2 linked regions of the Homo sapiens genome follow. The protein of the gene in region 2 interacts with the protein of the main gene of each other region in a pairwise test. Each region holds a gene or a part of one and is shown on either strand. Other genes may lie near its edges.

Region 1 (3,889 bases), on a different chromosome or scaffold from region 2:
GTTTCACCATGTTAGACAGGCTGGTCTCAACCTACTGAGCTCAGGCAATCTGCCCGCCTCAGCCTCCCAAAGTGCTAGGATTACAGGCATGAGCCACCGCGCCTGGCCCTGATATTAATTTTCTAAGGCTTTCATAATGCTTGGGAATAGGGGTTCTAGAATCAGCCTGGGTTCTGCCACTTACTAGCCATGTGACTTCAGGCAAGTCACTCTGCCCCTCAGAGCAACTGGCTGGTTTTCTTACGAACACATTAACTCATTTCATCCTTACAAAAACCCTGTGAGATAGGTATCATTACACCCATTTTATAGTTAAGAAAACTGAGACACAGAGCAGTTACTGACTCGCCCATAGTCACATGGCTAGGAAAGTGGGGGAGAACATTTCACTCCAGGCAGTCTGGCTTCGGAGTCTGTGCTCAATTACATGCCAAGCAGCCTCCCATATGTAAAGCACTCAGAACAGTGCCTGGTACATGGTGTTTACTGGTGTCCTTATTATTAGGGAGAGGGGATAAGGGTCTAGACTTGGGGAATGGCACAAAAAAAGAAGGAAAACCCCAAGCAGCAGCCTGTTCTCATGTCATAAGAACTCTAACTCAAGCCACAACCTGAAACAACCAGTCTGGCCAGGGCCAACTGGTCTATAAAGTTGTTTTATAGACCCCTACAAGAAAGGATGTCAGGGGAAGGGAGATCTGGAAGGTCCAGCCCTCACCTCCCCAGCAGCAGGGCAGACCTGCTGGCCAGCATGTCTCATTTCCACCCAGGAGGCAGGCAGGGAGCCTGAAGAGGCAGGTGAGGATACCTCTGCCAGTTTAGGGAAGAGAAATGATTCTGGGAGTGTCTCAACAGCCGGAGCATGGGCCTCTCAGGTGTCTGGGTCTTGTCAGGCAGGCAGACACCAAAGCTGTGGGCCCTGATCGCATTCCATCCATGTCAGGGAACTCTGCTTGTCTGTTCTCATGGTGCACCCTCTCTATCCACACCCAGCAAAGTGATGCTCAGTCTGGGCACTTCTCTTTCAATGCCTCTATAGCCAGGGCAAAGCTGCCCTGTGCAGTAGGTACCACCTACTGAGCCTGGTACCTACCACCTTTCCCATGAATGCTGAACTTGGCCAGCATGCAGAGAGTACTGGTTTCTAGAAACTAGGGAATTCTAGCTTTCCTCAAGGAGGGTAGAAGGGCCGTGAGAACAATTTGGTAAAAGTCCTAATTCCAATATCTAACCTGCTCTTCAGAGTCTAAGAACGGGTATCCCAATGAGGAGAGAAGAGAGGCCTTCCTGTGGCCTGTACCACTGCAATGCTACCTAACTGCCAGGCCAAGAATCTCCAAAGGTAGCCTGGGCAGAGCAAGGCTGTCCAGAGCTATACGGGCCCTGTTCTTGGGAATGCTCCTCGGCTTGGGGCACAGACTACGGGAGTTCTCACTTCTGAAAGCCCCCTACCTTCCAGTTAGCAGCCAGACCCCAAGGGAGACCCCTGCTCAGATCAACAGCCCAACCTCCTGGGATGCCATGTCTCCGAGACTCCCCAGTACATCTTGGGCCCAGGAAGCCTCACCTGCTGCAAAAGGCATTTTGTATGGGCAGCCGCCACAGGTAGTGCCAGCGTGGGTAACAGACAGGGGCAACACTCCGCAGATGCTGTAGCCATTCACTCCAGTGTCCTCGCTAGAGCAGTAGCGAGAGGAGCCCCAGGGAGGGTGCTGGAAAGGGGTGCCTGAGGGCACTGAGCTCGGAGCTAAGAGGAGCCCCTCCTCGTGAGGTGCAGCCACTGGGGACAGCTTGCCCTCAGGAAGCATGGGGCAGGGCGAGTAGCCCCCACACTGCAGCCCCTCTTGGCCACAGTACAGGTAGAAGCTGCCTAGTGCAGTGAGCTCAGGCCCAACACACAGGCCATTGTAGTCGGCGGGGTTGCCAGGCATCGGCAGCGGCGACAGCTGAGGTGTGGGGAAAGAGGGCTGATGCAGTTCCTGCTTAGGGGCAGGTGACTCCTCGCCTGGGCGCCCAGGCTCCGGCTTCAGAGCCGCCTGTCCACCCATCAGCAGGGGCAGGTGAGGGCGCAGCCCCAAAGGGCTCTCCAGAGCCTTGCTCAGGGGCTGATGAGATGGCTGGACGGATGGCCCACAAGGAGTTGCAGATGGCCATGGTTCATCAGGGCAGCCTTGCCAGCCAGGTGGGCCTGCAGCCTCCCCAGAGCTGGCCCCCTGCCAAGCCTTGGGATAGTTCTTGCCATTGACCTTGGGCCACTTTGGCCTCGGGGCCTTGGGTGCTGGGGGCTCAGTGGAGCGCCCATCTACTTCTGCATGGGCACGAGGCAGCCGCAGGGGTAGCTCCCGCTCCTGGCTCAGTTTTAGGAAAGCAGCTGCGTTCAGGCTAGCCAGTCTCTTGGGAGCTGGGTCTCCATCTCGGCGGGGACCTTCATCGGGTGCTGGCTCTGGAGACAGGTCCCGACTTCCTCCTCCAAGGTCCCCCAGCCGGGGCCGCTTCTTGGAGGAGGACCAGCCCCCAGTAGCACGATCACGGTCACGGCTGCGGTGGGGATCCCCTGCTCGACTGCGGCGGGTGCCTGCCAGGCTGCTGGTGTCCTCTCGCTCCAGCAGCAGGTTATTGAGAGCTTCAGCATTGAGGGAGGCCAGGCGCCGCTTGCGGGGCTGGGCAAGGCCAGGGTCTTCACTGGATGGGGCCGGGCTGGGGGGCTTGGGCAGGTCAGGCGGTAGCTCATCAGCCTCATCTGCACTCCGGGGACCGGCCACATTCTCCAGGCGAGTCAGCAGCACTTTGCAGGCCTTGGGCTTCTCAGGAACCAATGGGCGCTTACGAAGTGGGTAATTCTTGCGGCGCCCTGTGAGGTGACCTGGGCTCTCGGGCATGCCTGGCTCCACACCCTCAACCCCCTGCTCCATGTTGCTGTCTTCCATCTGCAGGGGCTCTCGGCGGCCAGTGAGGCCCGAACTCAGCATGGGAAGGGACTTTCTCCGAGTGTGTGTCATGGAGTACTTCCAACCTGCAGGACAGAAGGTGGGCAATGAGAGAAGCCCTCTCTGGCCTGCTCCTGCCTGCTTTCTCTCCCACTGCAGCCTACCCAGCCCCAGGTGCAGTGATCCTGGCCTACAACTACCCTGTCTCCAGTATGGATTTTCCTGGGACTCCCTTTCCAGAGTGTGAAGGGGCAGTGGAATCAAGCTACCAGCAGCTGTGCAAGGACTGGTTCCTCCTCTTTCCTTTTAGCCTAGGGTATCTCTGAACTAAGCCCCTGAAGAGCCTAGGGAGCAAGGCAGACCCCAGGGACAGGGGATAGGAGGAGCTGGTGGCAAAGCTCTTTGTTCTCTCCCCCTGTCCTTCTCTCACTAGATATTCATCACAGGATAGGAAGAGGCTCTGAAGACAGAGCCTCCCAAGATGGGGGACTGGGTGGTAGAAGTCCATTTATTCTTTCTTCTTTTTTTCTTTTTTTGAGAGACGGAGTCTCGCTGGAGTGCATTGGTGAGATCTTGGCTCACTGCAAGCTCCGCCTCCCAGGTTCACGCCATTCTCCTGCCTCAGCCTCTCGGGTAGCTGGGACTACAGGTGCCCGCCACCACGCCCCGCTAAATTTTCTTTTGTATTTTTAGTAGAGAGGGGGTTTCACCGTGTTAGCCAGGGTGGTCTCGATCTCCTGACCTCGTGATCTGCCCGCCTCGGCCTCCCACAGTGCTGGGATTACAGGCGTGAGCCACTGCCCCCGGCCAGGAGTCCATCTATTCTTCCAAAAGTATAACCAAGGCATTAACAATCCCCTCCCCAAACGCAGGGCTTCTGAGGTTGGCCACAGGAGGACAAGAAGACAGACAGTGAAGAGCTGAGATGGGGACCCTGCCTGCTGGGCCATGAAGGCAAAGTT
Region 2 (4,073 bases):
AGAAGGGCATGAGATTTGGGAGGGGCAGGGGGCAGAATGATATTCTTTGGATTAGTGTCCCCATCCAAATCTCATGTCGAATTGTAATCCCCAGTGCTGGAGGTGGGGCCTGGTGGGAGATGATTAGCTCATGGGGGCAGTTTCTTATGGTTTAACACTGTCCGCCTTGGTGCTGTCATGACAGTGAGTGAGTTCCCATGAGATCTGGTTGTTTAAAAGTGTATAGCACCTCCACTTTCTCTCTCTTCTTCCTGCTCCACCATGATTTCTTGTTTGCCCTTCACCTTCCACCTGCTTCCCCTTCCTCTTCCACCATTATTGTAAGTTTCCTGAGGCCTTCCCTGGAGACCAGTAGATGGCCTGCATCATTCTTCCTGTACAGCCAGAGGAATCATGAGCCAATTAAACTTCTTTTCTTTATAAATTACCCAGTCTCAGGTATTTCTTTATAGAAATGGAAGAATGAACTAATACAGCTAACCTTAAAAAAAAAGTACAGAAGAGTCTTAGTGTTTTATCTTATCTTATTCTCTGAAAGAGAAACTGTTCAGAATTAACTGGTGAAATCATCTAGTCTTAAATTTGCATATTTGTCAAAATGGATTCATGAATTCCACTTCTTTATGACATATAGAAATATTCAGGTTCGTATTTCTTCTTGGGTCCACTTTTTATACATTTAATTTAATCAGATAATATGTATTTGAAGATGGAATAAATTGGCCCGAGCTTTGTTTTATAGCTTTTTTTCTATGCAATTTTTTAAACATACACAAAAGAAGAAAGAATAACTATTACACCAGCCACCATATTCCCATCTCCTAGATAAAGCTATTGTTAATACTTTGATATAATTCCTTCACACTGTTGTTCTCCAATGTTATAATCTATGTGCAAGCTAAAACCTTTTCTTATTATATTGCTCTGAAATTATCAAGATATTCTCCAAGAAATAGTGAATTAAAAGATTAAGCAGAAGTTTATCACCACAGAAGCATCTTTAACCTTTTGGTGTAGAATTCCTGTTTGCCTGGACAAGAAAATATAGATATTGAGAATGTTAAAGATGAGGAGGAGGAAGAAGACAAAGGAGAAGGGGATAAAGAAAAGAAGATAAAGGAGAGGAAAGGGATGGAAAGGGAGGAAGAAGGTTTAAGGGACAGGAAGAATGACGAGGAGGAGGAGGGTGAAGAAATAATCGTGACATATAACGTATTGGTAATTTTTTTATCTATAAGAAGAAAATATCACCATGGTTGATTATATTAATGCATCACAGCACATTTATTGTGATAAAAATTTGAGGCTCAAAACACATTTACCACATGAGAAAAAGTTCATGGTTAGATATCAGATATTGAAAGACAATCTTTCTTAGAGTATAATGGCTCTCCAGCCAATAAAAAAGTGAATATCTGGAGAACATCACTAATCAAATGCCAATATCTAGTTGATCAAGTTTTCTTCACACTATTGTCAAAAGGCAGGTGATCCAAGCAGCTGTTTTGTTATGGAATATGGAATTCCATATGGTTATGGAATAAAGTTTCTTGGAAGAATTGGGAATCTCACAGAAGACTATATTTCAAGTATTTATTCAATAGAATCCAGAAGACCAGTATCCCCCATAGCATGATGGGTGGCAGCAGCTGTATCTGTAGCCTCCATAGCCACAGCCATAGCCCAGTCTGCGGAAGCTGCCACATCCACAGCTATAGCCATAGCCCAGGCCACCGAATCCTCCACAGCCGTAGCCTAGGCCTCCATAGTAGCTGCCGGAGTAGCTCATGTTGTCAGAAGTGGTTAGCTGTTGTAGGTCAGTTTGGTGACTGTGACTGGACAGGAACATTTATATATACTCTGATGCATGTGGAAAGCCACACCTTTAAATGTCATCCCTTAGAACGTGTTACCTGAAAACTATGCCAACTATCTTGTTTTGTAACACCCATCCCACTCTCTTCCTTGTTTATGAAGCTAGTTATTTAGAAATTATACAACATGTTTTATTTTCTGCTTTATTTGGATTTCTAGATAAGTGTTTTGCCTCTAATAAAATGTAGTTGCATTTATATTCACTGTACATGTATGAGTTTCTGAGTTTCAAATGCCATAAACAAATCTCTATAGCTTCAAGTATTCTTCAAATTGCATCTCATGCAATTACATTTATCCTCTGATTGCACTCTTTCCTTTGACAGTCCATGGCTGCTGAGCCTTTTCTAAGCCAAGGATGTTATCTTTATTCTGCCAAGAATTCACAAAAATTGAAACATTATTGTTCTCTGAAATGGCAATCAACTATGATGTATGTCTTTATACAATGTGCTTTTAAAGTCAGCTGGGAACCACATTTTATAGTGGAATGATGATATTTAATTTTTAAAAGAGTCACAAATTAATGTCAAAGGAATTTCTCAAATATTATGCTTCATGTAGAGCCAGCCTGCTTAGTAGATACCATTAAAGTGTGCATAAAGTCCCTGCCAATCCCTTATGAATAGTTTCCTCTCCCCAAATTTAATCTTAGTCTAGATTCTAAATTTCGTACTATCATAGGATCATATAATTATAGAATTAAAGAGACTTGAGTCATCATTTATTTCAGTGTTCTTGTTACTGATGAGAAAAATGGATTCAGAGAGACAAGCAGAGTTACGCAACAGTGAAACTTAGTGGCAGATTAGGACTAAAACCTAAGTACTTTGATTATTGGCCTTAGTTCAGCAGATGCATTTGAAATCAAAGATTGCAGGTTAGGGTATATCTTCTCCCACAATGCCCAGCTGCCTTATATTTTTGTTTCATATCATCAATATAAATAAAAGCAAATGACATGAAACCAGTAAGCATATATGCTCAGCTACTCCTGCTATATATATATATATATGTATATATATATATATACATGTATGTATGTATATATACACTTTAAGTACTGAGGTAAATGTGCAAAACGCGCAGGTTTGTTACATAGGTATACATGTGCCATGGTGGTTTGCTGCACCCATCGACCCATCGTCTATGTTAGGTATTTCTCCTAATGCTGTCCCTCCCCTAGTCCCCCACCCCCTGACAGGCCCTGGTGTGTGATGTTCCCCTCCCTGTGTCCATGTGTTCTCATTGATTAACTCCCACTTATGAGTGAGAACATGTGGTGTTTGCTTTTCTGTTCTTGTGTTAGTTTGCTGAGAATGGTGGTTCCAGCTTCATCCATGTCCCTGCAAAGGACATGAACTCATCCTTTTTTATGGCTGCAGAGTATTCCATGGTATATATGTGCCACATTTTCTTTATCCAGGAACCTCAAAGAATACAGGTTATTTTTGAACTTCATTTATACTGATTAAACTTATTTCCTTTACCAGTTTATTAAAAGTGCTACATAACTAGGTACTTAACATATTTCCATCCTGAGGGAACTTTGCAAACTACAAGTTGAAGGGAATTATTAATGGTAAAGAATTGCTGTATTTGAATTTGCTTCAGTTAAGAAAATGTAGGTTCAATATAATTTTAGGTAATTTTTTAAAAAGACTATTATCTTTAGCACTTGTCACAATCCAGATAAAACCAGATATATTTGCTTGGTAGGGAAAATATTATTATCAGGAATAGAAGATCCCAGAACCTCCAATCTAGGAATTATTTTCTAGGGTCCTCTGCTTTATTTGATTCCTAAAAGTGAAGCTAACACGTATGTGAACTTTGCCTGTCCACGAAGCATCAAGTCATCTGCCTCTTCTCATTCTCAGCTCACACGACCTCCCACTTGGCACTGATAGGACTAGACTGACCCCAGTCACCCTATGACTCACGCTGGTTTCTGTAGAGAAGAAACGCTTTACCGTCTTTTATCTTTCTGAGATACTAGTGCATTCACATTTTAAGATTTTACCAAATATCAATATTAGGAACTTCTCTTATTCTTAAAACAATTCTTTATTTTTTTCTTTAATGAGCATGTATTTTACAAAATATATTCACATAAAAGTCAACATTATTATTCTGTGGTTGTGAAACTACTGTGGAACAATCAAACCATCAAACGGAAACTTCATGAGGTAAGGAAA

The links. The genes of interacting proteins can lie anywhere in the genome.
Region 1: the proteins of KRTAP19-7 (region 2) and BAHD1 interact in binary tests that used the Homo sapiens proteins (3 or more experiments, as listed by UniProt).

The regions. Positions count from the first base shown.
Region 1 is NC_000015.10:40,457,575-40,461,463, reverse strand, and holds part of BAHD1 (bromo adjacent homology domain-containing 1 protein), read right to left. Parts: intron 3,014-3,889; coding exon of another isoform or gene 3,000-3,013; coding exon 1,568-2,999; intron 1-1,567.
Region 2 is NC_000021.9:30,559,501-30,563,573, forward strand, and holds KRTAP19-7 (keratin-associated protein 19-7), read right to left. Parts: upstream 1,815-4,073; 5' UTR 1,790-1,814; coding exon 1,598-1,789; 3' UTR 1,375-1,597; downstream 1-1,374. UniProt on the Homo sapiens protein: In the hair cortex, hair keratin intermediate filaments are embedded in an interfilamentous matrix, consisting of hair keratin-associated proteins (KRTAP), which are essential for the formation of a rigid and resistant hair shaft through their extensive disulfide bond cross-linking with abundant cysteine residues of hair keratins.